Regions from separate parts of the Homo sapiens genome. Here region 2 is linked to region 1. Evidence: fine-mapped expression QTL. A gene starts in region 1. The other region holds a variant in brackets. All regions are shown on one strand. Distances are between the middles of the regions.

The links.
Region 2: its variant is fine-mapped to the expression of ZNF776 in thyroid (GTEx, PIP 0.97).

The regions. Positions count from the first base shown.
Region 1 is chr19:57,736,149-57,752,379 of GRCh38, reverse strand. ZNF776 (zinc finger protein 776) reads right to left here and starts at 5,565. Exons shown (of 3, transcript NM_173632.4): 1 at 5,289-5,565; 2 at 1,469-1,595. The coding sequence starts at 5,321. RefSeq lists an enhancer at 5,504-5,553.
Region 2 is chr19:57,691,189-57,707,145 of GRCh38, reverse strand. ZNF154 (zinc finger protein 154) reads left to right here. Exons shown (of 3, transcript NM_001085384.3): 2 at 2,167-2,293; 3 at 4,358-10,871. The coding sequence ends at 5,511. Among named protein-coding and RNA genes, the nearest start is that of ZNF154, 10 kb to the left of the region's middle. The variant T/C (reference allele first, on the strand shown) is at 6,470.

The sequences.
Region 1 (16,231 bases):
CCAACCAACAGTTCAGAAAAAATCAGCACATGATAGCCCATAGGAAAGAAAACTAAATACTACAAAGATAATTTTTGGCCAGGTGCAGTGGCTCACACCTATAATCCCAGCACTGTGGGAGGCCAAACTGGAAGGACTACTTGACCCTAGGAGTTCAAGACCAACCTGGGTAACATAATGAGACACCATCTCTACAAAACAAACAAATGAGGCCGGGCACGGTGGCTCACGCCTGTAATCCCAGCTCCGGGAGCCCGAGGCGGGTGGATCACAAGGTCAGGAGATCGAGACCATCCTGGCTAACACGGTGAAACCCCGTCTCTACTAAAAATACAAAAAAATTAGCCAGGTGTGGCAGCATGTGCCTGTGGTCCCAGCTACTCGGGAGGCTGAGGCAGGAGAATGGTGTGAACCTGGGAAGCGGAGGTTGCAGTGAGCCGAGATTGGGCCACTGCACTCCAGCCTGGTGGCAGAGCAAGACTCCGTCTCAAAAAAAAAAAAAAAAAAAAAACAAAACCAAAAATACAAATGAACAAAAATTAGTTGGGCAGGGTGGCATGCTCCTGTAGTCCCAGCTACTTAGGAGTCAGGTGGGAGGATTACTTGAGCCCAGAAGGCTGAGAATGAAGTGAACCATGATTGCATCAGTAGACTGCAGCCTGGATGACAGTGAAACCCTGTCTGAAAAAAAAAAAAACAAAAAAGCAAAAAATACTCAGGGCACACTGGCTCATGCTTGTAATCCCAGCACTTTGGGAGGATGAGGTGGGAGGATCACGTGAGGTTGGGAGTCAGAGACCAGCCTGGGCAATACAGCCAGACCTCATCTCTATTAAAAATAAAAATAAAAATTAGTGGGATGTGATGGCAGAAGCCTCTAGTCCGAGTTACTCTAGAGGCTGAGGAAGGAGGATTGCTTGAGCCTGGGAGATTGAGGCTACAGTGAGCTATGACTGCAGCACTGCACTCCAGCCTGGGTGACAGAGTTAAGACTTTGAAAACAAAACAGAACAAAACAAAACAAACAAGATAATTTATAAGGAGGGTCTTGCAAGAACAACCTATGGTGCATGTAAGTATTGAGAACATCAGTGATGGGAGGAATTCCTAGCACAGGCAGTCATGAATAAATGTCACCTAGAGCAAGGAAGTAGAACCTGTGCATACCAGTCTCTGATCTAGAAAAATTACTCAACAGCCAGAGGGCAAGCAAGGTGGGATGCATTATGGTGCCTGTAAAGCTCCTTCTCTGGGAGCTTGCAGCAAAGCAGGTGTTGGGGCTGCTCAAGGAGAGAGAGGGCAGTGCACACACCTCAGTCCTACATACCACATAGAACCTACCCAGGGAACTAACAGAGGAACCTGTGCCCAGGCTCCTGAAGTGAGGAAAACAGTCTTGCCATGGGGAAAAAAGATGGGGACAGACAGACAATAGCTGAGGTCATAGAGAAGAGTGTGAGTGCCTTACCTAGAGAAGATATAAGTGTCAGGTTCTCCAGCATCACGTCATGATAAAGGCATCTCTGAGCCTCACTAAGGAGACTCCATTCCTCCTGGGAAAAGTTCACAGCCACATCTTCAAAGGTCACAGTGCCCTGCCGTGATGATGACAGATGAAACCACAAACACTCCATATGCTCATCCACTTATCCACCCTTGCCCTTCCTCCTCCCAAGGTCCTAAACTACAAGGAGAAACTAGGCCCACTGGTGTCACTATCTTCTCATGGGCTCACTGGTCATGGTGTACAGCCATCAGCCACAAGAAGTGGGTGAAACAATAGATTTCTATGTTTTGGTGCTGATATAAAGCGGTCCATAACTTCCTGATAGCCAATGCCCCTGGTAGAGATGAAGTCATGTAAATCCCAATGCAGCATCCTCAGTCTATCAGACATACTCCTTCTCTAAATACACATCATTCCTTTTTTTTGCTTTTTTTTTTTTTGAGATAGGGTTTCACTCCTGTTGCCCAGGCTGGAGTGCAATGACATAATCTCAGCTCTCTGCAACCTCTGTCTACTGGGCTCGAGTAATTCTCTGGCCTTAGCCTCCCGAGTAGATGGGATACAGGTGCATGCCACCGTGCCGGCTAATTTTTTTTTTTTTTTGTATTTTTGGTAGAGAGAAGGTTTCACTATGTTGCCCAGGTTAGTCTCGAAATCCTGAGCTCAAGTGATTCACCCACCTCAGCCTCCCAATGTGCTGGGATTACAGGCATGAGCCACTGTGCTAGGCCAAAATACACATCATTCTTTAGACTGCACAGACACATGCCCATGGCCACCCCCACTAAACTGCCTCCCACATTGGCCTCTGCCTCCCCACAAGTTAAAGTATGTTTATACCCTCTTCTTCCTTCTACCAGTAAGGGTGAGATTTTCACCTTACAGTTATATTAATGACCAAACACATGACATCAAACACTAGACAGGTGCTATAAATATGTTTAAAAATCAAATACACTCAAAGTCTAGAAGAGGACATCCCTCATCATGAAGGACCACATAGGGGTTGCACTATGGATAAGAGTGCATAACCAGAAACTATGATATGCAAGCTTTTAAAATGAAGAGGGTGTGATGACCCCCGAATCCCTTAGGAGGATGCAACTGGCTTGTTTGAATAACACTGTGGGTAAGGATAAAATTGAAACTCACTACAAAGTATAATAACCAGGAATTCTGCCTGGTCTCCCTAATAAAAGGATTATTAGGCCATGCTGATTATTATCTAAAAGAGCCTAGTGGGAAGGGAATTGGTTCTCAGGTCATTTGAGGTCATACCAATATCACTAGATGTCAAGGTGACACATCATATTGGGCCTCCATTTTTGGCTTTATACCACAATATGGCTGACAGCATCCAATATGCTTCACATATTCAAACAGGATCCAATAATAACACAAAATGACCATGGTTCCCATTAGCAGTGGTAGTCCCTAATAATTCTATGAATGCCTCCTTGCATTACTCCACATCCATGCAAAACCACATGTAACTTCAGATATCCATGGTCTTATTCCACTTCTGTGCTACAATGGCTTACCCTTCAGCAACACGGACCAACTTCCATTCACCTAATACCATTGCCATTTAAAGAGCAGTCCTGGATGGGCATGGTGGTTCACACCTGTAATCCTAGCACTTTGGGAGGCTGAGGCAGGTGGATCATGAGGTCAGGAGTTCGAGACCAGCCTGGCCAATATGGTGAAATCACATCTCTACTAAAAATACAAAAAAAAATTAGTGGGGCGTGGTGGCACGCAACTGTATTCTCAGCTACCGGGAGGCTGAGGCAGGAGAATCACTTGAACCTGGGAGGTGGAGGTTGTAATGAGCCAAGATTGCGCCACTATACACCAGTACACCAGCCTGGGCGACAGAGTGAGACACCGTCTCAAAAAAAAAAAAAGTCCTGTTTTTAATCCATTTAAGGCCCAAGACCTACTGTCACAGATGACCATATTTCTCCCTGAGCATATTCAGCACGTGTAATGAAACCCCCCACACACTACCAAAGTCATCTCAAATCTTGATTGCACAGAGTGGTGAATAAGTACCACTCTGGCCTAAGTGTCATCTTCCCTCAATTTGACTACACTTCTGCATATATCTATTTCATGTCTATTCTCTCCTTGAAAGTCTATGTCCCCTGTCAAATTATGCTGACAGGTATACCCTACCATCATGGTCACTTACCTACCTCTCCAGTGTTTAGGAAGCCCAGTAACATTACCCAGGGACCCAAGCAACAGATGCAGTCCTCATCATTCAACCACTGCTTTCTGGTCCCCTAAAAGATTTACCACCAGAATCTGAAGTGTGTTCTCCTTAATGTGACCCATGGCTCACTCACCATAGCATACACATTAGCTACCATATATTAGATGTCTCCAGTGTCAATCCCTTTCCAGATACCCCAACCTGCATGTCCATAGCCATTTGATGCCTACACTTATTCGTCTCTGACTCTTCATATGGCCATAACAGTCATCCTGATATTTGCATAATATTCTAATTATGTTTATTACCAACATGCTCATCTCAGCTGATGCAGCTTCCATAGCTACAGCTACTAAGACCAAAAACCTCGGGATCCTGATTGCTCTCTTCATGCCCTTACTTTGTGTATTAGGAAACCTAGATGCTGTAACAAAATATCAACTTTGAATCCAGCCACATCTCCTTAGCCATGAATCTTAGTCTGTTAACCCTCACTTGGATTACGGCAAAAGCCTCAACTCTCATCTTATTTCCTCCTCTCTCAACCCCACAGTCTGTTCTCCACTGTACAGCCAGAGGAGACTACAGCCAGATGAAACTGTGGCAACATCACCTCCTCCCTCTGGTCAGTTTCACCTCTAAGCATTTCACATCCTGGTACTAACTCCTGGGTTAACCTTCCAAGTATGTTTATACTGGTTGACAGAAATGGGAATACCTCCATATATCCTGTGTCACAGACTTTGGATCCTGGGTTTAAGGTTCCTCCAGGGTTCCCATATCAAAAAACTTAAAAAAAAAAAAAAAAAGGTACCTAAGAATCCCAGGACATCCCAATCTAAAGAGCATGTGGATAGGAGTTAGGGCCAGTGAGGGAATAACACCCTCCGCTTCCCTGCGGAGGTTCTGCAAGTGCTTCTGCAGCCAGGAGTTCCTGAGAGGAGAGGCACAAGCTACAAGAATGTATCCCTGATGAGATTTGATAAGCTCAGGCCTCCCTGAACTCTTTCTTGGCCCTGTAACTAGGTAAACGCGAGTTGGTTGTCTGAACTGAGCGCCTCAGTACAAAATGTCATCTCTTAGCACCTATCTGATCTGTAGAGGTTGAACAAGAATTCAACCTCCCAGGGCCCAAAAGTCATCCCCTGTGTTCTTTTTCGACTGGACTTTGGGAAACCTTTAAAGCCTGGACATTGATCTTTTCCTTCCTTTGTTGGAAGCTGTCCATGGCTTCCAGCGTTCTCAGGGTGAATACACGGTCCTCAGCCTGCTCTTCCAGGAGGAGCTCTGCCTCACACTTTGCTCCCGACAGGTGCCTGTGGACCCTAGGTTACGATCCTCTCGGCTCAGTTCATCTCCAGGCCTTTGCCTGCACCGCTCCCTGTGCCTGTAGCTCTCCTGAGCGCATCCCGCGGGTGTCAAAAACGGGGGCCCATAGAGAGCGCCTCAGTGTCCCGACGCCGGGTTCAGGGTGTAAAACCTTGAGCAGGCGCCGCTTCCTCTCTGCTTTTGGACTTAGGTAAAGATGAGGTGACCTGAGGGCACGGAAGACGCCACAATTACCTGAGCCGGGGGCCTCAGCGCGGCCGCCGCCATCCGACTGGGTGGGGAAAGCGGGGTCGAAAGGAGGGGGCGAGCAGTGCAGGTACCCGGGCACGGTGGTCCCGATCCCGGCCTTGGTGCGGGTCACGCCTAGCGCCTTTAAGGAGCTGCAGAGCAGCCTCTGTGCAGTCGGGACAACGTCTCGTCTCCACCTTCTGGGTTCAGTCACTTCTACACGACCCAACACTCCGCGGTCTCTCACTGGAAAATACACCCAACACCAATCAAAATGGCCACTAGTAGAGGACGCCGGAAGTCCCACCTTTATACTGTTTCCGCGGAAACGCCTTTATTTTGAGCCCTCATTGGCTCTGACGCGCTGTCATTCGACGCAGAGATTTCTGGGTTATGTAGTTTCCTCAGGTTCCAAGACAGTTCCAAGGCGGTAAAGAAGGCCTTCTCAGAGGCGCTTGATTGCACAGAGTGGTGAATAAACACTACTCTGGCCTAAGTGTCATCTTCCCTCAATTTGACTATACTTCTGCATGTATCTATTTCATGTCTATTTTCTCCTTGAAAGTCTATATCCCCTGTCAAACTATGCTGTCAGGTATACCCTACCATCACGTTCACTTACTTGCAGGAAAGGCCCAGCTCCATCTCAGCGGCCTGTCCTTAAAGTGCATGTCCTTCTAGGGTAGAGGATAGTCTCACCTAGCCTTAGAACCCGTATTGAGATTTTTGGAGATTAGTGTCTGTAACTGATCACTCAAGTATTTGAAAAAATATTATTTTAGATTTTGGGGAACTCGAGCTCTCCGATGCTAAACTTATTATTTAGGATGCCCCCAAAGACTAAAAATCCAAATTATCATAACGTTTTGAACAGTCTTTCAGTCGCAAAATCCCGGTACTGGCAGCAGAGGCTGATAAACATTATTGTGTTATAAATTCACATGAATGCACTCTGAGGCATTAGAGTCAGTTTCTCAGTCTGTCAGGGACAAGAGAGAACTAATCCAGATAGGACAAGACAAGGAAGATAGAGGAGAAATGTTGTGTTCCCTAAAGCAGGAATACATGCTGAATCTCTGTCTGTGATTCCCACAGAAGACAACTCTCCTGCCTATAAAATCAATCATAGTGTCCAGTACATTGAGCAACACTTTTATCCACTTAGTATCCCTCGCTTGAGATTCCAACTTATATTCAATTAATTCTGGATTAATTTATCTAAGATTTATCAATCTTACAGGAAGACCAATGAAAGAAATGCTATTTTGGTAGTGATAAATGGCTGCAGTTTTCAAAGGTGGGGCACGTATGCAGAAGATGCTCTCCACCTGTTGATATTGGTTGTGTCTTAAATCCAGGAGTTCATGTTATTGCTGGGAAGTGGCTATTTTTTTTTTTTTGTATTAGATAAAACAGACTTTATTTATTTCTTTTCTTTTTTTTTTTTTGTGACTATTCTTTATTTCTGTTTCCATGGCAAGGAGTGTTTTGCCTAATAAATTAATGTTATGGATGGGATTACAGGCATGAGCCACCATACCTGGCTAATTTTGTATTTTTAGTAGAGACGGGGTTTCTCCATGTTGGTCAGGCTGGTCTCGAACTCTCAACCTCAGGTGATCCACCTGTCTCGGCCTCCCAAAGTGCTGGGATTAAAGGCATGAGCCACTGTACCCAGCCGCTCAGTTCTTAAAAAACCTATGTCTTCTATGTTCAGGGAGAAGAGGCATTTAGAGCAAGAGCTTACTCATTCTCCATTTCTGCTCAGAAATAAAACTTGCTTGCCTTTTTTTTTTTTTTTCCCAAATTGGGTGTTCTTTTTTTTGTGACCAATACAAAGTAGGGAAAGAACTCAGTTTATTGGTAGTACAACTTAAAAAAAAAAAAGCATGTTTAACATTCCAACTTTCATAGTCCTGTCAACTTTTACTTTATGTTGTAGTCCCAGGACTCTTCTCTCCAGACCATTTTACCCTTTCTTGTGCAGATGTCTTCAGGTTTCCACCCAGGGTTCAGGCCAGGAGACTTTGGCCTTTTTTCCAAGTGCTACCTTGATTAACCAGTCTAACCATCACCCTAGGCATTCCAGGTGGGGTTTCTCATTATATCTTTACCTTCTGGCTTTTAAAATTTATCCAAACTTCAGGAACTACAGCAACTTAGCTTAAGGCCCTTTAATGTTGGGGGATCAACAGGAACTTCCTTTGGTCCACCCAACCTTCAATAGTGTTATATTCAGAATTTTGTTTTAATCCGATCAGTTTTTATTTTATTCATCTAATTTCCATCTAATAGCCATCTAAAGATTTCCACCATGCTGGGATGAGTATCATGATTTCCCCCTTTTCTTTTTCCTCTTAGTTTCATTCCTATCCATGTTTTCTTTATTTGTCTTATTTCTTTATAACTATTTAAAAATTTCTACCTTCCTGGAAGGAGCTGTTTGACTCTCCCCTGTACCTTTCATCATTGTCTATCTTATTAATTAATCTAATGGTTTTATTAGCATCTGAAAGGCCCATAATAGGAAGCAAATTTGGTAAGACTGACTATAGCTCAATTTTGCAGCAGTAAGTTTACATAAGGTGCCCAAGAAAATGGGGTTCCCCAAACCAAGACATTTACCATGACCTGGGTAATAAACATATTCAGTAGGTAAATATTCCTATCATCATAATGCCAGTTCCACATGGCTTGCATGGGAAGCATATTAAGCTGGTTCATCTGGGGAGCCCCACTTGGCATTTATAGGGGGAGTCAGACAGTCCCGCTTTTCCGAGTAGACAGACTTCAGAGTAGCTTTTATACACCCACCCAGGCTGGCTGTTCCTTCAGGAATAAACTCTTGTGTGTGTGGATGATACATACCTATCTGCAATTGTTGAAGAGTGACCTGTAGGTACTACATCAACCCAAACATGTTCTTCCACTCTGCATTATTTAAAACCAAAGATGTTTCCCCTAAGTTAGTTATTCTCACTATCCATGTTAGTAAAGGTTCCTGAGGAAGCTGACGATACTGGTCTATAAAATGAAACAATTCCTCCACACTATTGATATAGAACCAGGCCTGTTCTGTCCATCTCACAGTATGCCAATCACTGAGATGATGAGTCTTGCAGCAGAGAAAGCATGTATTTACAAGGCTGCCAAGTGCAGAGGTGGGAGAACAGTTCTCAAATCTGCCTCTTTGATGATGGGATTTAGAGATATTTATGGGATAAAGAAGCCTGTCGGCCGGGCGCGGTGGCTCATGCCTGTAATCCCAGCACTTTGGGAGGCCAAGCCAGGCAGATCACAAGGTCAGGAGTTTGAGACTAGCCTGGCCAACATGGTGAAACCCCGTCCGTACTAAAAATACAAAAATTACCTGGGCATGGTGGCGGGGGTGGGGGCACCTGTAATCCTAGCTACTCAGGAGGCTGAGGCAGAAGAATTACTTGAACCCGGGAGGTGGAGGTTGCAGTGAGCCGAGATCGCGCCACTGCACTCCAGCCTGGGCAACACAGTGAGACTCCATCTCAAAAAAAAAAAAAAAAAATTGACCTGTTCTATCTCCAAAGTATGCCTGTATAAAGTTATTGATGCAAGAACATATTGTACCTTTTGTAATGGATTTTTCCAAATATATACACAAATACAAAGGACTATGTAATGAAGTCCCATGAATTCTTCCTCAATGATCCATTATTATTTATCATTGCATGGTGGTTTGTTTTTTTTTTTTTTTTTTTGAGACGGAATCTCGCTCTGTGACCCAGGCTGGAGGAAGTGGCGTGATCTTCGCTCACTGCAAGCTCAGCCTCCCGGGTTCATGCCATTCTCCTCAGCCTCCCGAGTAGCTGGGACTACAGGCGCCCGCCACCACACCCGGCTAAGTTTTTGTATTTTTAGTAGAGATGGGGTTTCACTGTGTTAGCCGAGATGGTTTCGATCTCCTGACCTCATGATCTGCCCGCCTCGGCCTCCCAAAGTGCTGGGATTACAGGCGTGAGCCACTGCGCCCGGCTTTTTTTTTTTTTTTTTTGAGACAGAGTCTTGCTGTGTCGCCCAGGCTGGAGTGCAGTGAGGCAATCTCAGCTTACTGCAACCTCCACCTCCTGGGTTCAAGCAATTCTCAGGGCTCAGCCTCCCAAGCAGCTGGGATTACAGTGCCATTACGCCCGGCTAATTTTTTTTTTTTTTTTTTCTTTGAGACGGAGTTTTGCTCTTGCTGCCCAGCGTGAAGTGCTATGGCACAATCCTGGCTCAACACAACCTCTGCCTCCCAGGTTCAAGCAATTCTCCTGCCTCAGCCTCCCGAGTAGATGGAATTATAGGCATGTGCCACCACGCCCGGCTAATTTGGTTGTGTGTGTTTTTTTTTTTTTTTTTTTTTTTTTAGTAGAGATAGGGTTTCTCCTGTCTCTACTAGAAAAAAAAAAGGGTCAGGCTGGTCTCCAACTCCCAACCTCAGGTGATCCATCCACCTCGGCTCTCCAAAGTGCAGGGATTACAGGCATGAGCCACCACATCTGACCGATTATCTATTCTTAAGTGTATTACTATGCTGTTTTACTTATAATCCTGATATCTCTCATTTTTGTTATTTTTGAGACGGAGTTTCTTGCTCTTGTTGTCAGGCTGGAGTGCAATAGCACCATGTCAGCTCACTGCAACCTCTGCCTCCTGGATTCAAGTGATTCTCCTGCCTCAGCCTCCCTAGTAGCTGGCTAACTTTGTATTTTTAGTAGAGACAGGGCTTCTCCATGTTGGTCAGGCTGGTCTCAAACTCCTGATCTCAGGTGATCCACCTGCCTCAGCCTCCCAATGTTCTGGGATTACAGGCATGAGCCACCATGCCTGGCCTCTAAATGTTATCTTGTATGACAGCATGATATATAGGCACATAAAAGCAAGATGCTTTAGAAATGTAAATAAAAGATTATAAATTACAAATGGCAATGTAATCAGGGATGTAAAGAATCTCAATACCTAAATGTTACCTTGCATGACAGCAAGTTATATAGGCATATTTCATCTTCACTATCAGTAATATTTTGCTTTCTTCTTTCTAGAAATATCTGTGATGATTCTTAATCAACATAGGACTCTACAGTAATGTCTAGAAGTTTAAAATTGTGTGTTCCAATTATATTATGACTACACACACTGGAAGGTATATTTCTATCTATTGTGGAGTAAAATTTTCTTGATTATACCCTGCTTATGCTCCCACTAAACCTTTGTAATCAGCAAATTTAAAAGCCCAAGTCTCTGAGTAGCATTTGTGCTTCTGTGTGGCCAGTATGACCCCACCTCCATTCTGTCTAACAGCCCCTTGGGGTTCTGAATATGCTGGTTGTGTGGATCACATCTCTCCCTCTTGGGTTTGTTGTCAGTGTGGTATATATTTATGTCGGCTCAGGCTGTCAATAGGTGCCAGTACCCAATGCCTCTTACACAGAGTCCTATAGGTATAACAGGGGCACCTCTAGGATGGACTGAGATTTTTTTTTTTTTTTTTGAGACAGGGTCACTCTTTTCCCCAGACTGGACTGTGGTGGCATGATCTTGGCTCACTGCAACCTCCGCCTCCCTGGTTCAAGCAACTCTCCTGTATCAGCCTCCCGCATAGCTCGGACTACAGGTGAGCGCAACCCATGGCTAATTTTTGTATTTTTAGTAAAGACAGGATTTCTCCATGTTGGCCAGGCTGGTCTCAAACTCTTGACCTCGTGATCCACCCACCTCGGCCTCCCAAAGCGTTGGGATTACAGGCGTGAGCCACCGTGCCCTGCCGGACTGAGGTCTTTAAATACTGCACACCTGTCACACAGGGTCCCTGGGATATGTGTTTTGTCTATAGGCTGTGCTGCAGTATAACCCTCAGGCACTTGTCACACACCAGGAGCATACACTCTTTGAAATTTTTGCTTCCAGACTGTACCACAGCATGCTGGGAGAATGTAATCCAACTGTGTGTTTCTGGCTGTGTCATAATCACACACTTATGTGGGACTACCCCTGAATCACCCATTTCAAGAATATCTAGTTTGCTTATGGCTTATACATGTGTAAACAACTTAAATCATATCAGAGATATGCACAAAAAATTAGAGTATAATAAATTCTAATACAAAAATTACACAATTTCAAGAAATAAATAAAATTTTGGCCAGGCGCGGTGGCTCACGCCTCTAATCCCAGCACTTTTGGAGGCCAAGACGGGTGGATCATGAGGTCAGGAGTTCAAGACCAGCCTGGCCAAGATGGTGAAACCCCGTCTCTACTAAAAATACAAAAATTAGCCGGGCGTGGTGGTGGGCGCCTGTAATCCCAGCTACTTGGGAGGCTGTGGCAGAGAACTGCTTAAACCTGAGAGGCGGAGGTTGCAGTGAGCCAAGATTGCACCATTGCACTCCAGCCTGGGTGACAGAGAGAGACTCCGTCTCAAAAAAAATAAAAAAATAAAATAAAATTTAAGGCCAGGCATTGTGGTTATGTATGTAATCCCAGCACTTTGGGAGGCCAAAGCAGGTGGATTGCTTGAGCCCAGGAGTCTGAGACCAGCCTGGGCAACATTGTGAAACCCAGTCTCTACAAAAAATAAAAAATAAAAGCTTAGCCAGGCATGGTGGTGCTTGCCTGTAGTCCCAGCTACTTGGGAGGCAGAGGTGGGAGGATCACCTAGCCCAGGGAGGTCCAGGCTGCAGTTAGCTGTAATTGTGTCACAGCACTCCAGCCTGGGTGACAGAGTAAGACCCTGTCCCACACCCCGCACAAAAAAGGAATTTTAAAAAGGAAAGTCATACCTGTAGATTAATAGAGATATATGAGACAGAACTACTAAAAGTCATGGGGATAAATTTGGGAATTTCTTTCTTTTTTTTTTTTAATTTTTGTATTTAGTAGAGACAGAGTTTCACCATGTTGGCCAGGCTGGTCTCAAAATCCCAACCTCAGATGATCCACCCGCCTCAGCCTCCCAAAGTGCTGGGACCACAGGCGTGAGCCACCACGCCCACATTTGGGAATTTCATTGCAATGAAGCTGCTTAAAGAACAAAGATATTTTTGAGACAATAGAAAAAATGGACGATGATAACATATTTTGTTATGCTTTAAACATTTCTGATGGAACCAGTTGTAGGTGTTATGAAAGAGCCCTTGGACTTTGGAAATACCCTGTGAAGAGATTATGCATTAAGCGATGTCAGGAAGCTGGGCGCTGTGGCTCATGCCTGTAATCTCAGCACTTTGGGAGGCCGAGGTGGGTGGATCACCAGAGGTCAGGAGTTCTAGACCAGCATGACCAACATGGTGAAACCTTGTCTCTACTAAAAATACAAAAATTCACTGGGCGTAGTGGCAGGTGCCTGTAATTCCAGCTACTAGAGAGGTGGAGGCAGGAGAATCACTTGACATGCTGGGATTACAGGCGTGAGCCACCACGCCTGGCCTAGATTCTTTACATATCTGATTACCTTACTATTTCCAATTTACAATCTTTTATTCATGTTTCTGAAGTGTCTTTCCTTTCACTAATGGGAGAGGAAGTATTAACTCTTTCACTCATCAAACACAAGTTAGTAAAATACCAGAGACTCAATTTGCAAATCATGCCCCCAAAAAGACAAAAATGCATAACCAAAAAATGTTATAAAGACACTAAATGGCCACTCAAATACTTTAAACAGTCTTCTTCATTTCCCACTGGTAAAGATCTTACAGTGGACTTTGTGAGGCTTAATATTTTCAGTCAGTAATGGAAGGAAGAATATTCAAAGAAGGTTTCAGAGGAAATATAGAGGAGAGGCATAAGGCAAGGAGAGGAGGTTGCACCATGTCTCCAGGTCCCTCAGAGTATGTCTCAACCTCAGAGCAGAACTGGTTCCTTCTGATTGTAACACTCTGTAGGGACCAGCCCCACAGGGTCGGTGGGTCTCTCCCTGTGTGCGGTGACGAGAGAGTGTAGAAATAAAGACACAAGACAAAGAGATAAGAGAAAAGGCAGCTGGGCCCGGGGGACCACTACCACCAATGCGCGGAGACTGGTAGTGGCCCTGAATGTCTAGCTGCACTGTTATTTATTGGATACAAAGCAAAAGAGGCAGGGCAAAGAGTGTGAGTCATCTCCAATGATAGGTAAGGTCATGTGGGTCATGTGTCCACTGGACGCGGGGCCCTTCTCTGCCTGGCAGCCAAGGCAGAGAGAGAGAGGGAGAGAGAGAGACAGCTTACACCATTATTTCTGCATATCAGAGACTTTTAGTACTTTCACTAATTTTGCTACTGTTATCTAGAAGGCAGAGCCAGGTGTACAGGATGGAACATGAAGGTGGACTAGGAGCGTGACCACTGAAGCACAGCATCACAGGGAGATGGTTAGGCCTCCGGATAACTGCGGGTGGGCCTGACTGATGTCAGGCCCTCCACAAGAGACGGAGGAGCAGAGTCTTCTCTAAACTCCCCCCGGGGAAAAGGGAGACTCCCTTTCCCGGTCCGCTAAGTAGCGGTTGTTTTTCCTTGACACTAAGGCTACCGCTAGACCAGACTTCCCAGATGCTGGCATCACCGCTAGACCAAGGAGCCCTCTGGTGGCCCTGTCTGGACATAACAGAAGGCTCGCACTCTTGTCTTCTGGTCACTTCTCACTGTGTCCCCTCAGCTCCTATCTCTGTATGGCCTGGTTTTTTCTAGGTTATGATTATAGAGCGAGTATTATTATAATACTGGAATAAAGAGTAATTGCTACAAACTAATGATTAATGATATTCATATATAATTACATCTATGATCTAGATCTAGTATAACTCTTGTTGTTTTATATATTTTATTATACTGGAATGGCTCATGCCCTCGGTCTCTTGCCTCAGCACCTGGGTAGCTTGCTGCCCACAACACTCACCTGGGAATAGTTGGTATTTACTAATTCACATTTACAAAACCGTGGCTGGAGTGTCAGCATTCCTGCCATGGGGAAAGTGGATATTTGAACCCTGAGAAAAGATTCTGGGTACAATAATCTCACCTTCTTGCTGGGAAGGAACTATCATTTCAGCAGTAAGTACAATGATAGTTTCGGCATGGGGACTGGAGATTACCTCTGGAAAACAGCTTGGACTGAGAAAATTAGTTAATATTGTGGATAAATGAAGTTACCACTGAGAATGACATAAGTAGCTAGAAAAGTTTCTGTGAAGTCTGAGAACACATAAATCTCAATGGATAGTGAGCAGAGGACATGGGGCTGTAAGTTCTGAGATAATTAAGTGGAGCCCATGGCTATCCTAGAGACTTGACTAACATGAAATTCTTATTTCTACAAAGTGTGTATTATTTCAATTTCTGAGAACTCAGGAAAAACCAACTGAGAGCCAAGGAAATAGTAAGGTAAGACTAGAAAGATGTCATAGAACAGAAAGAAAGCGATGGTGGCATCATATTGATTCAATGTCTTGGAATCTGCATCTTGTCACCTGGGGACACATTCTTTGATACAAAATGGAGGACCAGCTCATAGCTCCTGTGGTATTGAAAAACAAGTACTCCGGCCAGGCGTGGTGGCTCACGCCTGTAATACCAGCACTTTGGGAGCCCGAGGCGGGCGGATCACGGGGTCAGGCCATCGAGACCATCCTAGTCAACATGGTGAAACCCAGTATCCACTAAAATACAAAAAAATTAGCCAGGCGTGGTGGCGCACTCCTGTAGTCCCAGCTACTTGGGAGGCTGAGGCAGGGGAAATCACTTGAACCTGGGCGGAGGAGGGTGCAGTGAGCCGAGATCGCACCACTGCACTCCAGCCTGGTGACAGAGCAAGACTCCATCTCAAAAAAAAAGAAAAAAGAAAAAAAAAGTATTCCTTACAGTAAAGGAATGATATCACTGAAGAATATATTAGGTTCAAATATGTCTTTGTTTTACTTTTTCTTATTTCTTATTGAAATGGAAATAGAAAAAAAATTATTTTAGTATCAGGGTAATACCAACCTTGTATGATGAATTTAGAAGTATTTTCTCCTCCTCTTATTTTTGGGAATAGTTCGAGTAGGATTGGGGTTAGTTCTTTAAATGTTTGGTAAAATTCAGTAGTGAAGCCATTGGGTCCCAGGCTTTTCTTTGCTGGGAAAATTTTTATTACAGCCTCAATCTCATTGCTTGCTATTTGTCAGTTCAGGTTTTGGATTTCCTCATAATTCATCTTGGTAAGTTATATGTGTCTAGGAATTTGTCCATTTTTTCTATAATTTCCAATTTTTGGCATACAGTTGATCATAGTAGCCTCTAATGATCCTTTGAATTTCTGCAGTATTGGCTGTAAAGTCTTCTTTCTCACTTCTATTTTATTTGGTTTATCTTTCTTAGTCTGGCTAAAGGATTTTTTATTTTGTTTACTTTTCAAAAAACCAATTTCTCGGCCGGGCGTGGTGGCTCACGCCTGTAATCCCAGCACTTTGGGAGGCCGAGGTGGACAGATCACGAGGTCAGGAGTTCGAGACCAGCCTGACCAACATGGCAAAGCCCCGTCTGTATTAAAAATACAAAAATTAGCCGGGCATGGTGGTGGGTGCCTGTAATCCCAGCTACTTGGGAGGCTGAGGCAGGAGAATTGCTTGAACCCAGGAGGCAGAGGTTGCAGTGAACAGAGATCCTGCCATTGCACTCCAGCCTGGGTGATAAGAGCAAGACCCCATTTCAAAAAAAACAAACAAAAAACAAACAAACAAAAAAAATCATTTTGTTGAACACATTTGTATTGTTTTCTTTGTTTCAGTTTCATTTATTTCTGCTCTAATCTTTATTATTTTATTTTCCTTTTTTTTTTTTTTTTTTTGAGACAGAGTCTTGTTCTGTTGCCCAGGCTAGAGTGCAGTGGCGTGATCTTGGCTCACTGCAACCTCCACCTCCCGGGTTCAAGCAATTCTCCTGTCTCAGCCTCCTGAGTAGCTGGGACTACAGGTGCCT
Region 2 (15,957 bases), 45 kb after region 1:
GAAGGGTTGTTCTATTTTTTTTTTTTTTTTTTGAGATGGAGTGTCTCTCTTGTTGCCCAGGCCAGAGTGCAATGGCGCGAGCTTGGCTCACCACAACCTCCGCCTCCCGGCTTCAAGCAATTCTCCTGCCTCAGCCTCCCGAGTAGCTGGGATTACAGGCATGCGCCACCACGCCCGGCTAATTTTGTATTTATTTAGTAGAGACAGGGTTTCTCCATGTTGGTCAGGCTAGTCTTGAACTCCCAACCTCAGGTGATCCACCCGCCTCAGCCACCCAGAGTTCTGGGATTACAGGCGTAAGCCACCGCATCCGGCCTACAAGGGTTAATCTTTAGGCATGGTGGTACAGGTTATTTGGCCAGGAAGGGCAGAATGGGGGCTAAGGACCAAGCCTTTTGGTTGGATAAGTGGGTGATATTCTTGGGCTTTCTAAACAGAGGTAAGGGAGGTTAGTGGCTATGGAGGTAGGGTGTTTGGAGAGGATAGTTGGGCAGGTGGCATACACTTTCAAGGGAAGAGTGGATATAAGGTGGATGCAGAGGCATAGGTGTATTTGAGGCAAATGGCTGTCCTTTTTTTCCTTTGTGCTTATTCAGCACTCTGTGGAATCACCAGGATTTTTTGATGACTTTGATGGGGCCTAGGGTGTTTATTCAACCTGGAGGATAAGGCCAGGTGCCAATGTGGTCATCTGTGACAGTCACTTGGCCTGGGGTAGGTGATCAGTGGAGCTAGTCTTTGAGTGTTAAGTGGACAGAGGAAGGTTGTTACTGCTGAGGGGCTAGCAAGTGCAGCACGGAAGTGGAATAGGGCCATGGGTATCTGAGATGCACATGTGGTTCTGTGTGGCCTAAATCTGAGGCAAAGAATGGAGCCAGCCAGGGAGCCCTCATAGGATTTGGGGCTGCTACCACTAGTGGATGCCCTGGGAGATCTAGGGTAGTATTAGATCCGTTTGAATCTGTCGAGCATACTCTGGACGCTGTGTGCTAAGTTATGGTGTAAAGTCTAAAATTAAGGCCCAGTATGACATCTGGTGAAATCAGGGTGGCATCAAATGGCCTGAGTACAAGTTTCCCTCCCTACTCTTCTCCCAAACAGACAACCCTTTTAATCAAGGAGACCAGGCACAATTTCTGCCTATCACTTTGTAGCAGATTTCAGCTCCCTACCAGGTCATGGAGTTTTCCAAACAAGCCCATTGTGGGAACCAGGGGGCAGTTGATCCTTTTGTTCTCAAAGTGCTTGCATCCCACAGTTTTTGGTTATTCACTTTTTTTCTGGACTAGACCCCCATGTGACCCTGTGTGGTACATGTTGTCCTCATCTCCCAGGTTCTATGTACATATGATTAATAAACTGCTATATCATCTTTCTTTTTTTTTTTTTTTTGAGACGGAGTCTCGCTCTGTCGCCCAGACTGGAGTGCAGTTTCGCAATCTTGGCTCACTGCAACCTCCGCCTCCTGGGTTCAAGCAATTCTCCTGCCTCAGCCTCCTGAGTAGCTGGGATTACAGGTGTGCTTCACCACGCCCGGCTAATTTTTGTATTTTTAGTAGAGATGGGGTTTCGCCATATTGGTCAGGCTGGTCTTGAACTCCTGACCTCGTGATCCACCCGTCTTGGCCTCCCAAAGTGCTGGGATTACAGGCATGAGCCACCATACCCAACTGCTGTATCGTCTTTCTAGTGTCAGGTATTGTGTGTTTGTCCATATCCATAACCCTAGTGTGGCAATCCTGCCTTCGCTAATGGGGTAAAGAGGAAGAGATTAAAACAGTGACATGGGAGGTAAGAGCAGGGAGATGCCTATGGTGTGGGCAGTGAGGTGGCAGCCCTGGGCTTGGGGCTGTGGTGTCTGGAGATAGGAGGGATGTGTATTCTGAAGAATGATGTGCATCTGGAAAGGGAGTAAGTGACAGCTGCAGGGCCCTGGTATTGAGACTTAGATGACCTTGGACATTTCAGGGGGATTTCATGATGGGATAGTATGGATCCTTCCATGCCAGGCCCCCAGCTTAGATGCCTATTTATCCATGTGCTGGTTTCTCCTCTCAGTTGGGGAGCTTGGGAAGAGAATGGGCATGGGGTAAAGATGTGGGGGTATGCATTGTGGGTCCTTGGGATAGGGGCTCTTGGTGGTTTCATCTGTTCCCATTGTGGCAGGGCACTGTGACCTTTGAAGATGTGGCCGTACACTTCTCCTGGGAGGAATGGGGTCTCCTTGATGAGGCTCAAAGATGCCTGTACCGTGATGTGATGCTGGAGAACTTGGCTCTTTTAACCTCTCTAGGTAAGGTTCTTTTACCCTTTCCTGTGCCCTGAGCTAGTCTGTGCCCTTCCTCTTTTCTCTATAGGCAGGTCTGTCCTTCTCATGACAAGACTATGGGCTCTGCTTCTTTCTCAGTTCCCTGCATAGTTCTGTCATTGGTAAGACTAAGGTGTGCATACTGTCTTCTCCTCTCCTTGAGGAGCCCCAGTACCTGTTTCCTCACAGCCTCACAGGGAAGGATTCAGAGTCTGCAGTCTTGCAGTCACCCTAGTGGATCCCACCTTGATTGTCCCCTCCATGTCTGGGTGACTTTTTCCAGATTTGAGGATCCTGTGTGCCCCAGCTACTACTTCCATCCCGAGCTGGCATTTCATTATGCCTGCCTATGCCAGGAGTTATTGTCACTGACATGGTCACTACTTATGTAGACCATGGACTCTTCTTACAAAGTATTCCTCTGAAATTTTCTTTGTAGTATTTGTGTGTGTGTGTGTTTTTCCTGTGGGCTGTCATGTGCTGAGTTTTTTGTGGGACAGTGCAGGCTGCTCTTCTGTTCTTTCTTCCCTTAGTACTTACATTATCCAGATGCTGTATCAGAGCAGCAACCTGTTCTGTTTGGCGAGCATTTTGGTGCCAATGCCAGTGGTCACAGCTCACTTCCGGTTTCCCTTCACCATTCTTGACATTTTGCTGACAAGTCAGCTCTACTACTTGTCACTTCTGCTCTTAACATCCAGCCTGGGGCTAATCCTCACATCTCTGGACTCCGTATCTTATCTGTTTTTCTCACTGCTACACCTGCAGTTCTTTCTAACGTTAGCCTCTATATAGTGTGTCATGAGGTATGCACATACTCTTTTTTTTTGAGACGGAGTCTCACTCTGTCACCCAGGCTGGAGTGCAGTGGCATGATCTCGGCTTACTGCAACCTCTGCCTCCCAGGTTCAAGTAATTCTCCTGCCTCAGCCTCCTGAGTAGCTGTGATTACAGGCGCATGCCACTGCACCTGGCTCATTTTTGTATTTTTTTAGAGATGGGGTTTCACCATCTTGACCAGGCTGGTCTTGAACTCCTGACCTTGTGATCCACCCACCTTGGCCTCCCAAAGTGCTGGGATTACAGGTGTGAGCCACTGCGCCTGTCCTTGCACATACTCTTAAACAGTCCTTGAAGGCCAGCTGCTGCATTGCAGTCGTATTTCCATGGGCTTGCATATACTATTCTACATAGCACTCATGTGTCGCCAGCAGATAAGCTTCTGCTAAAGTTGTTTGCAGAGGATTTAGTTTTAGACCCTGCCTCTCTCTTTGTGATACCTCATGGTTGTGGCCTTTACCTCTTGAGATCTCCCACATTCCTGTAATCTTTTTTTTTTTTTTTTTTTTTTTTGAGACGGAGTCTCCTTCTGTCACCCAGGCTGGAGTACAGTGGTGCAATCTTGGCTCGCTGCAACCTCCGCCTCCCGGGTTCAAGTGATTCTCCTGCCTCAGCCTCCTGAGTCCTGGGACTACAGGCACCCACCACCATGTCCAGCTAATTTTTGTATTTTTAGTAGAGACGGGGTTTCACCATATTGGCCAGGCTGGTCTCAAACTCCTGACTTTGTGATCCACCCACCTTGGACTCCCAAAGTGCTGGGATTACAGATGTGAGCCACCGCACCCGGCCCATTCTTGTAATCTTTATCCTAGAATTGCTAAACAGCCTCATCTGCAACTGAACCCAACTCTACTGTCATGCAAACGATCCCATGGACTTGTTCCTGGGTTTGTCATACACACACTTGTATAAGGGCTGCCCCCTCCCACCATAGTTAATGTGCACTTCACTAGCATTTCTTGCTTTTAGGTTTTTGGCATAGAGTGGTGGATGAGGAGGCACCTTCTGACAAGAGCATTTCTTTAGAAGGAGTGACCCAACTCAGGACTTCTAAGGCAGATCTTTCTCCCTAGAAGGCCCACCACTGTGAGACGTGTAGCCTGGTCTTGAGAGACATTTTGCTCTTGGCTGGGCCCTAGGGGACACATCATAGGCAGAAATTATATAGAGGTGGGGCATGTGGGAAATAATTGTATTTCATTGCAGATGTTCATCATCAGAAGCAGCACCTTGGAGAAAAACATTTCAGAAGCAATGTGGGCAGAGCCTTGTTTGTGAAGACCTGCACATTCCATGTGTCAGGGGAGCCTTCCACCTGCAGAGAAGTTGGGAAGGACTTCCTGGCCAAGTTGGGATTTCTCCATCAACAGGCTGCTCACACTGGGGAGCAATCAAATAGCAAAAGCGACGGTGGGGCCATCAGTCACAGAGGAAAAACTCATTACAACTGTGGAGAACACACAAAAGCATTCAGCGGTAAACACACACTTGTTCAGCAGCAGAGAACCCTCACTACAGAAAGATGTTACATATGCAGTGAATGTGGGAAATCCTTTAGCAAAAGCTACAGTCTCAATGACCATTGGAGACTTCACACTGGAGAAAAGCCTTATGAATGTCGAGAGTGTGGGAAGTCCTTTAGGCAAAGCTCTAGTCTCATTCAGCACCGGAGAGTTCACACTGCAGTACGACCTCATGAATGTGATGAATGTGGAAAATTATTTAGCAACAAGTCTAACCTCATTAAACATCGGAGAGTTCACACTGGGGAAAGGCCATATGAGTGCAGTGAATGTGGGAAATCCTTTAGCCAAAGGTCTGCACTCCTTCAACATCGGGGAGTTCACACTGGGGAGAGGCCTTATGAGTGCAGTGAATGTGGGAAGTTTTTTACATATCATTCCAGTCTCATAAAACACCAGAAAGTTCACAGTGGATCCAGGCCTTATGAGTGCAGCGAATGTGGGAAGTCATTTAGCCAAAACTCTAGCCTCATTGAACACCATAGGGTTCACACTGGAGAAAGGCCTTATAAGTGCAGCGAATGTGGGAAATCCTTTAGCCAAAGGTCTGCACTCCTTCAACATCGGGGAGTTCACACTGGGGAGAGGCCTTATGAGTGCAGTGAATGTGGGAAGTTCTTTCCCTACAGCTCCAGTCTCCGAAAACACCAGAGAGTTCACACTGGATCAAGACCCTATGAGTGCAGTGAATGTGGGAAATCCTTTACTCAAAATTCCGGCCTCATTAAGCACAGGAGGGTTCACACTGGGGAGAAGCCTTATGAGTGCACGGAATGTGGGAAATCCTTTAGCCATAACTCCAGCCTTATTAAACATCAGAGAATTCATAGTCGATAAAAGCCTTATGAGTGGCAAATGTGGAAAATCTGTTAGCACCCTGGAGAAAGTCCTTGAGTACACAGTGAATGTCAGAAAGCTTCAGCTGAAGGCCATATCTCATTGAGTGCCACACAGTTCACAAGGGAAAGACACTTTTGATATGTAGGGATGTCCAGTTGATATAACAGCTCTGAAGGAGATCCCTTATGAGGGTGGCATCAGCCTGAATTGAACATCCTATATCTGAACATCTGCATAAATTCCAGGTATGTGTGAACTGCATTGCACCTTTTGCCCTGCCCAGGGCCCATGTCAGATTTATGTCTCTGCTGATACTATAGTGGAAGCCATTTTACCTCTACTGCCTGGCAGGTGACCACCAGTGTGCACCACTCACCCATCCCAGTGTATTCAGGTAAGTGAACCTTGGTGTTCTGTTCATGGGAGGAATTTGTAAATAGCCTAAGCATTTATTCCGTTTTTTTTTTTTCCTTTCTGATGAGTTAGGCCATGGACCTGACCCAGTTTGGCCCAGAGGACTCTGCTGGTGACCTGAAAAGAGGGACTACATATTTCAGGATATTGTTGGTCTCACATGACTCTTGATAGAGTTTGCCAGCCTTCAAATCACCAACTGTGGGAACCAACTGCCTCTTATTGCCTTGGTTTGTACAATAACAAAGGCCTTATTAATCTTGGGGGTTCTATATGTATGGGTTGGTTTGAAAACAGTTGGGTTCTGCTAACATGAAGGGGTGAATAACTTTTTTTGGAGATCCCAAACATTGTGTAGCTCAACAGGGACAGGGACAGGGACAGTAGGATGGCAGAATATAGCTCTCTCTCTAGTTTGAGCCTAGTTTTCATTGCTATTCAAGGCCTCTGAGAAAAAACTACAGGGTATTGTCCTAATTTATATCCTGGATGCCATAGAGGTCAGCCTGAGGAGGCAGCAGTTACTTGACATCCTTTGATG[T/C]TTCTGAAAGCAACATGAAATTGTTCTCTTGTTCACAAGGAATACTGCATCGTGTTCAGTGCCAGTGGGGGAAATCTGTTCCCCAGGTCCTGTATGCCTTGATATCCTGAATTCCACAGGGTAGCACCACAGGTGGTAAGATTATAGTAGGAATTATAATTGTTATAGAAGTACTGGATTGATAGAGAGTGGAAAACTGCAATAACACTGCAATAAATAGAATGTGCCCCTTTTACAGAGGTTTCCATGATGTTCGTTATTATGGCTCTTAAGGATGAGCAGGTACAGAAATCCTCAGGACCTACAGAATTGTGTATCTTGTGTAGCTGAGGTCATTGTCAGAAATTTTATGGAATCCTGTAGCCTCTGGGATTTTCACCTCAAGGTCATTGCTATGCAGGCAGGAAAACAAGGATAGAGAAGGGAGGTCTAGGCCATTGATACAGCCTTTGTGATCCAGCCAACATTTCTGTTGAGTCAGGTGGAAATGGCCTTCACTGTTCACTTGTATTTGTGATCACTGAGGCAAAATCCTCTCCCAGGACATGAGGAGAGAGATGGTGGAATCAACATAGGGTTGTCAAACCTGATTTTCCAAAAACAATAGGAAATTCAGACTTTTATTTTGAACCATATTTTGTTAGGTTGGTGCAAAAGTAACTGTGGTTTTGAACCATGATTTATTTTTATTTTTATTTTTTTTTGAGTCAGAGTCTTGCTCTGTTGCCCAGTCTGGAGGGCAATGGCACTATCTCAGCTCATTGCAACCTCCGCCTCCCAGGTTCAAGCGATTCTTCTGCCTCAGCCTCCCAGGTAGCTGGGATTACAGGCACCCGCCACCACGCCCATCTGAGTTTTGCATTTTTAGTAGACATGGGGTTTCACCATGTTGGCCAGGCTGGTCTTGAACTCCTGACTTCATGTGATCCACCCACCTTGGCCTCCCAAAGTGCTGGGATTTACAGGCATGAGCCACTGCGCCCAGCCAAGCTTTTTCACCATTCCAATTTCCTTCAAATGCTGAACAGCCGTGGAATGGTTGACATTGAGTTCTTAGGCAACTTCTCATGTAGTTGTAAGAGGATCAGCTTCTAATATTGCTCTCAATTGGTCATTGTCAACTTCCAGTGGCTGGCCACTACTTCTCTTCAAGGCTCTTGTCTCCTTTGCAAAACTTCTTGAACCACCACTGCACTGTACATTCGTTAGCAGTTCCTGGGCCAAATGTGTTTATATCGTGAGTTGTCTCTGCTGCTTTACGACCCATTGGGAACTCAAGTAAGAAAATCTCAGCCGGGTGCGGTGGCTCACGCCTGTAATCCCAGCACTTTGGGAGGCTGAAGTAGGTGGATCACAAGGTCAGGAGTTAGAGACCAGCCTGACCAACATATTGAAACCTCATCTCTACTAAAAATACAAAAATTAGCCGGGCGTGGTGGCATGTGCCTGTAGTCCCAGCTACTTGGGAGGCTGAGGCAGGAGAATCACTTGAACCCGGGAGGCAGAAGTCACAGTGAGCCAAGATCACGCCACTGCACTCCAGCCTGGACGACAGACAAAACAAGACTCCGTCTCAAAAAAAAGAGGCCAGATGCGGTGGCTTACACCTGTAATCCCAGCACTTTGGGAGGCCGAGGTGGGTGGATCACAGGTCACGAGTTCGAGACCAGCCTGGCCAACATGGTGAAACCCCGTCTCTACTAAAAATACAAAAATTAGCTGGGCATAGTGGCATGCACCTGTAATCCCAGCTACTGGGGAGCCTGAGGCACGAGAATTGTTTGAACCCCGGGAGGTGGAGGTTGCAGTGAGCCAAGATCATGTCACTGCACTCCAGCCTGGGCAACAGAGCAAGACTCTATCTCAAAAAAATCGCTGAAATTTGAGTTTTGTCTAACATTTCCATAGTCTAAAATAAACATAAACAGCAAGTAGTAAGTCAGCAAAAAAACATAAAGCGAGAAATGCCTATTAAAATGATGTATAACCACATTTATTTAAGAATGTTTTCCAATATAAAATGGCAAAATCCAACATGCAAAAACGGCAATTACTTTTGCACTAACCTGATAATAATTTTAATAAGAATAAATGGTACATATTTAAACTATATAATTTGATCAGCTTTGATATTCATATTAACCTGTAATTGCTCCCACCATGCCAATTTTGAAACTGCCAACATGTTACTGAATGTAGAATTGGGAAGAGTTGCTGATAGCATCCTAATATATTCTGTTTCTACCATACTGATACAGTGGCCACGAATAACCTCAAGAATGTAGAAAATAAAATGTAGTGAAATGATTAGGAAGAAGTTGTTTCTTCACAATCATGACAATGAACGTGTCATTCCACAAGTTACCTCATTGTCCTTTAATAATTATCTGCCTATAGGCAACTATTGATTTACTTTCCATTATAATACATTAGTTTTCATTTGCTAGAATTTTATATGATTGAAACCATAATGTATTTACTCTTTTTTAATCCCTGGGTATAGTCACGTATTTATTTTGAGATTCATCATTATACCTCTATGAGTAGTTTCTTTTTTTTGTATTGCTGAGAAGTATGATGTTCTGTGGATATACCAGTATTCGTTTATTCATTCATTCATTTGTTATGGATATTTTGAGTAGTTTTTTAAAGTAGTTTGAGGTATAATGGAACTTAAAGTGCTTATATTTAAAATGCATATTTTGATATTTTCATACATGCTTACACCCTGGAACGCAGTTTCCTTCTGTCTTTTTAGTTCATTCTCAACATATAAAATTAATTTTCATTGTGTAAAATTACTGGTACAATGACATATTTTGTCTCCTGTTACAGCTGTGTTCAATTACAAAAAAAGATGGAAAAGACTGTTATGAAGCCAGATGAACCTTTCTCCAGTCTTCCTTCACTATTTTTTTTTCCTTCACCATTTATCATTTCATAGTCATTTATGTTTCATCGGTCCTCATGTGTACTAGTGCGTTATTTTACTTATACTCCCGGATATCATATTATTTAATGCATAGCCTCTTCAGAATGCAATTTTAAAATGTAAAGGCTCTTTTATAACCCCCCAAAAAATCACACAAATATATTTTAAAATGTAAATATTTTATCGCTTCTGTTTTCTCAGTTGTCTAAAACAATGTGTTTCTTAAGGAAGATCATTTTTATTCAGGATCCAAATGTATATTTAATAGCTTTCAGTAGTTGTATCTCATAAGTCTGTAACCTACAGGTTCCATTTACCTTTGTTTTCTTATTTCTTGAAGTTGCTGAGTCATTTTTTAATTAGAATTTGCTGTATTCTAGATGTGGCTTATTGAATCTCTAACATTGTTTAACTTGTACACTAGATGTTGATGAAATCGGTGATTGAGATTTTGTCCCAGCAGACAGGTGTGTGATGGCAACAGTGAAATAAATACAAAACCTTCTCCCAACCCAGAAATCCTCTCCACGAAGGTAGAGACAGAAAACGCTTTTATTAAGCATTAAACCAGAATGTGATGCACATCACAGACAATCCACTAAGAAATTGCAAGGTAAGAAAAAAGCCTCACTCCTTCATATGGCCTAGCAGATGTAGCCCATTACACACGTTTTCAAGATAAACAACAACAAGTCCTCAAATACGAATTTGACAGCACCATTTGTCACACATAGTTCATCCTAACAGGTGATGCTCTATTACCTTACTGGCTTTACCTAGAGGAAAAGCAAACATCATATCTTTATGACAGAGGATAATGAGGGGAGCTGCCTTGGGGCTGCTGGATGATACATCGGGACAGGACAGTGCGAGCTTCCAGCAAGGCAGCTCTAGTTGGAGCCCTGATTTCTTTCCAAGGTGAGGAGAGGGTGATGATAGTATCCTTGGGAAGGGGAGTGAAAAGTGCTGAGGGACTGTATTTATAGCTGAGGGATTTCCTGGGTGCTGTGGGTCTCTTGTCTTTGCCACTCTGCCTCAACACTGAAACTGTCCATTCCCTACTTGGAGGCTGCACCCAAAACCTCCCTCTGCCTTCATGCTCTGGCCTCCCCCTGCAAGTTACCACCCTGGGTCTTGGTGCTTGCAGCACTTCCGGTGCCTGGCTGCCCCAGGCCCTCTGCTCCCTCTGCTGCCTGGGTTTAATCCCTCCTCTGCCACTGCCCAGCATCAGGACTCTGCTGGTTTTGCAGCCTCTTGGTACCTCAGTTTTATGTTTGTGGAATAGGAGTGCTCACAGTACTCTCTGGGATCCTGGCAAAAGGTGTGGTAGGCAGGTGGTAAGCAGGGCCGAGCACTATCCCCAGCACCTAGTGAGTTGATGCCTTATCATTTACCTGATCCAGGCAGGTCTTAAGGTACAAGAGAAAGAGAAATGGGGCTTCTTAGAACCCCCTGACCCCACAGCTTCTACTTGGATGGAATTTTTGGAAGAAGCACTGGCTGCAGAGTCCAGAGATCTCAGTGTGAATTTCTGAAGGACTCCTTCCCAAGGAAGTGACCTTGAGAAAGTCCCCAACAACCCCTGTCAAGGACTTGACTAACAGCTTCTCTAATGTTTGTCTCCCTTTCCAATTTAAGAACAAATGGATGAAATCAAGTATGTGTCCCTAACCAATGACAGAGTAGGCCCTACTTGTAGTTAGCCTGCCTTCGGCTTCCTCAGACCCACAGACTCCAATTAGCACACCTAAAGCCTTCCCTTTTTTCTACTCTGAAGAATTCCAGCTGGGCGGCGCGGTGGCTCACACCAGGGACAGGGGCTGAGTGGGCTGGGGCGGGGCTGGGTTAGTGACTAGAGACCCTCTTTGAACCTCAGTGGTTGATTAGAATAAAACGAAGGGAAAAAGAGGCTGGGCTCGGTGGCTAACGCCTGTAATCCCAGCACTTTGGGAAGCCAAGGCAGGCGGATCACCTGAGGTCAGGAGTTTTGAGACCAGCCTGAACAACATGGAGAAACCCCATCTCTACTAAAATACAAAATTAGTCAGGTGTGGTGGCACATGCCTGTGATCCCAGCTACTCAGGAGGCTGAGGCAGGAGAATTGCTTGAACCTGGGAGGTGGAGGTTGCAGTGAGCTGAGATAGTGCCACTGCACTCCAGCCTGGGCAACAAGAAACTCCGTCTCCAAAAGGAAAAAAAAAAAAAAAAAAGGAATTCCGGCTGGGCACAGTGGCTCACATCTGTAATCTCAGCACTTTGGGAGGCCAAGGAGGGTAGATCACTTGAGGCCTGAAGTTTCAGACCAGCCTGGCCAACATGGCGAAACCCTGTCTCAACTAAAAATACAAAAATTAGCCAGGCATCGTGGTGTTCGCCTGTAGTGCCAACTGCTCAGGAGGCTGAGACGAGAATGGTTTGCACATTTCCCTGGATGCTGACAATCAAGACTACTACTTTCTTTTCTTTCTTTTTCTTTTTCTTTTTTTTTTTTGAGATGGAGTCTCCCTCTGTCACCCAGGCTGGAGTGCAATGGCACAATTTCGGCTCACTGCAACCTCCGCCTCCCGGGTTTAAGCAATTCTCCTGCCTCAGCCTCCAGAGTAGCTGAGATTACAGGCGTGCACCACCACGCCCAGCTAATTTTTGTAGTTTTAGTAGAGATGGGGTTTCACCATGTTGGTCAGGCTGGTCTTGAACTCCCAACCTCAGGTGATCTACCCACCTCGGCCTCCCAAAGTGCTGGGATTACAGGCGTGAGTCACCGCGCCTGGCCAAGACTACTGTTTTCATGTGGAGCTAATATTGACCCACTTCCTAAGGATTACCTCCTTACTTATTCCTTCTTCCCCCCAAAAAGAGTAGAGAGGAATGATCATTCCTGTCTCTTAATGTATCTGCAGTTCAGAGAGGGCAAGCAACATCCATACACGACCACAGCTGCCAAGGGTGGGAAAATATTTTAAATAGCCCATTTTCAAGGCATGATAAATCTAAGTACTGGCAGCCAGCCTGCAAATGTAACAAACCACACAGCTCATGCATCTAGAAGGTCACAATAGGTACACAGAATGTAGAGGAGGGGTCAGGCCATGAAAGGGAAGAATGTTTCATTATTGGAAATCAAAACTTAAGCAGGGAAGGGGACCGGGGTTTAACGTTATAAGGGGGATAATGAAACTTAGACGACATCTGGGAAGACTGTAACCTCATAGTACTGGACCAATGAGTATCTTGGAGGAGGGACTTGCAAGCAAGGAGATAAATTACCTGTTGTGACTACCCTAGATATGCCTGCCTACACCAGTCCCCTGATCTTGCAAGACTGTTACTGAAAGTCTCACTTTCGCTGTTCTTCGTGTCTTTTAGTCCATTCTTTGGGTTTGGATGGGTGAGTGTGTTTCTCACACAAGCAGCTGAGGTCTACGCTGAACTGGGTTGGCTTGCCTTGGTCCCTTTACTCCTCTGACTGGAAATGCAGGAGACTCTGGACAGATTCCTCTCTGCCAAGTCTGCTAAGCCCAGAACATGAGTAACCACACTGGGACACTGCCACCTGGGGCCTCAAGTCCTTCTCCACAAACTTGCTTCCCATGGTCAGCATTGCCACTGCCTGAACACCTCCAACAGGGTCCCTGGTGTCACTCCAAACACATCGCTCTCTCACAACCCCATGCAATGATTCATTCCTGGGGTCCTTTCGGTCTTCCATCTAAACACCACCATAGGATGCTTCCTCCACACCATACTGAACTGTCACTCAGTTATCAGTCACTACTGCAGACATTGGGAGAGAAGATGAAGAACTGAGAATGTCCAGCGTGACCATCGCGCGTCTCTGTACCCATGGCTTTTGCCTCCCAACCCCTGTAGCAGGTGTCCTTAGTCCCAACTGCTCCTCCCCAGCCCTGTGTAAAATCAATGACAGACAATGAGTACTAATCCCCTAGAGTGTTCCTTCTCCCACCTGTACTTGACCAATTACTTCTGAAACTGGCTGAATCTGGCTGAGCCCTCCTATAAAGCCCATAAACATCCTATTCTCCTGCTTAGGTCAAACCTGCTCACACGTGTATTTCCAGGTTGTGCTGGGGTATGAACCAGTTCCCTCATCAGTACATCATCTAGTATGCAGTGATGTGTGTAGGGAGTAGTAGTATCACATCAGGTTGTGCCTGCCTCATCACAATTGCCCCACAAAGATAGTGCAATTGTGTTTGTGGCCCACACATCAGATTTTTTTTTTTTTTGAGACGGAGCCTTGCTCTGTTGCCCAGGCTGGGGTGCAGTGGCGTGATCTCGGATCATTGTAGCCTCCGCCTCCCAGGTTCAAGTGATTCTCCTGCCTCAGCTTCCTGAGTAGCTGGGATTACAGGTGCGCACCACCACACTTGGCTAATTTTTCTATTTTTAGTAGAGACGGGGTTTCACCATGTTGGCCAGGCTGGTCTCAAACTCCTGACCTTGTGATCTGTCCGCCTCGGCCTCCCAGTGTGCTGGGACTACAGGCGTGAGCCCCGCGCCTGGCCCCACATATCAGATTTTTGGGTATCCCTAGCATATGTCCGTCCCACAAGTCTCTGTGGAGACTGCTATGGTGTGTCAGTATCTCCATCCCGTCTCACAGGATCCTTGCGTGTTTTGCACATACCTGTGTGTGTGTTTCAGGTTTGTCATACATCTTTTCTGTTGCGGATGTGGCATACACAAATGGCTCCAGGCTGTGCTGGGGGGTGTCAGTTTCCTACATCTGTCAATGTATGCCACAGATGTATGTGTATCTTGCTAGGATGTGCTGTCACTACTGCACACCTGTCTCACAACCAGCACACACAATACCTGTAATGTTTATTTCCAGGCTGCTCATGTTGTGGTAGCAAAAGGCACACTGTGTTTCCAGGTTTGTCACCAACATAAACCTGTCCACTTGGAACAGATCTTAATCACTCATTTCATCAATATCTAGTATACAGGAAATACTGGGGAATGGGGGGCGGAGTGAGCGGTGAACACACTGAACAGAATCTGAGATTTAATAAGCCAAATCAACAATGTGGGAAGTTCGTTTTGTTTTTTTTTTTTGAGACGGAGTCTCGCTCTGTCACCCAGGCTGCAGTGCAATGGCACGATCTCGGCTCACTGCAAGCTCCGCCTCTCAGGTTCACGCCATTCTCCTGCCTCAGCCTTCCCAGTAGCTGGGACTACAGGCGCCCGCCACCATGCCCGGCTAATTTTTTGTATTTTTAGTAGAGACGGGGTTTCACCGTGGTCTCGATCTCCTGACCTCGTGATCCGTCCGCCTCGGCCTCCCAAAGTGCTGGGATTACAGGCATGAGCCACTGCGCCCAGCACAATGTGGGAAGCTAATGGACAAGCAGTTTAGCAACGTTACATAAATATTAAAGAAGTAAGCAGTACGTATAGGTTAATAAACTCAAAGACACACCTACTAAACATCAAATATATTTTGTATGCTGATAGCAATCTGTCTTAAATAAGCAGCAGTTGATACAATTCAGTACTGTATATAAAACATTTATAATTTTGTACACATACAATTTTTATTTTGTATGTTAATCTTATAGTTACGAAACGGTCTTTAAATTTTAGAAATGCAATCTGAAGACTTTATGCCTTTAACGAAATATCTGATTATAAATCCACATGGGGACAGATGAAACAAGAACAACCATGAATTGCTTGATAGTTTATGCTGAAAAAAAAAAAAGAGAATGACAAAATGATAAATCCACCACTACACTCCAGCCTGGATAACAGAACGAGACCCTGTCTCAAAAAAAAATAAAAATAAAAATAAAAAAAGATAAATGATAGAAGACTGGGAAAGGGTTCATCAGGTTTTATAATGATGTCTTCCATTGATGGACATTTGTAAATAGCCCCTACAAAAGGCAGAATATGTCCTTCTATCAGTAATTTATATGTTGCAAAGGATAAATTGAAAAGGGCTGGAAGAAACATTTGGTTTTGGGAATGTACGATGTATAAAAACATCAAAATATATATTTTAAAAATATACAACTGAATCCCTTCTAAGGTGAAAGATAAAAACCCATACAATTTAAGTCCATTATATCTCAATAAAATTGTTTAAAAAACAAATATTTAAAACTTGCCACTTCCTGATCATTTTACTGTTTTATTGTCGTCTTTATTCTTCTGGCTATCTTGGATACTCTACCAGTGTATTGGAAACAGAATACAAAGGTGTGTTACCAGAAATTCTTCCCAACTCCAGGTTCAGTGACATCAATATGGCAGTTTGAAATTGACCACGGTGGCTGGGTGCGGTGGCTCACACCTGTAATCCCAGCACTTTGGGAGGCCAAGGCAGGAGGATCACAAAGTCAGGAGTTTGAGACCAGCCTGGCCAATATGGTGAAACTGTTTCTACTAAAAATATAAAAATTAGCCGGGCATGGTGGTGGGCGCCTGTAGTCCCAGCTACTTGGGAGGCTGAGGCAGGAGAATCACTTGAACCCGGGAGGCGGAGCTTGCAGTGAGCTGAGATTACAGCACTGCACTCCAGCCTGGGTG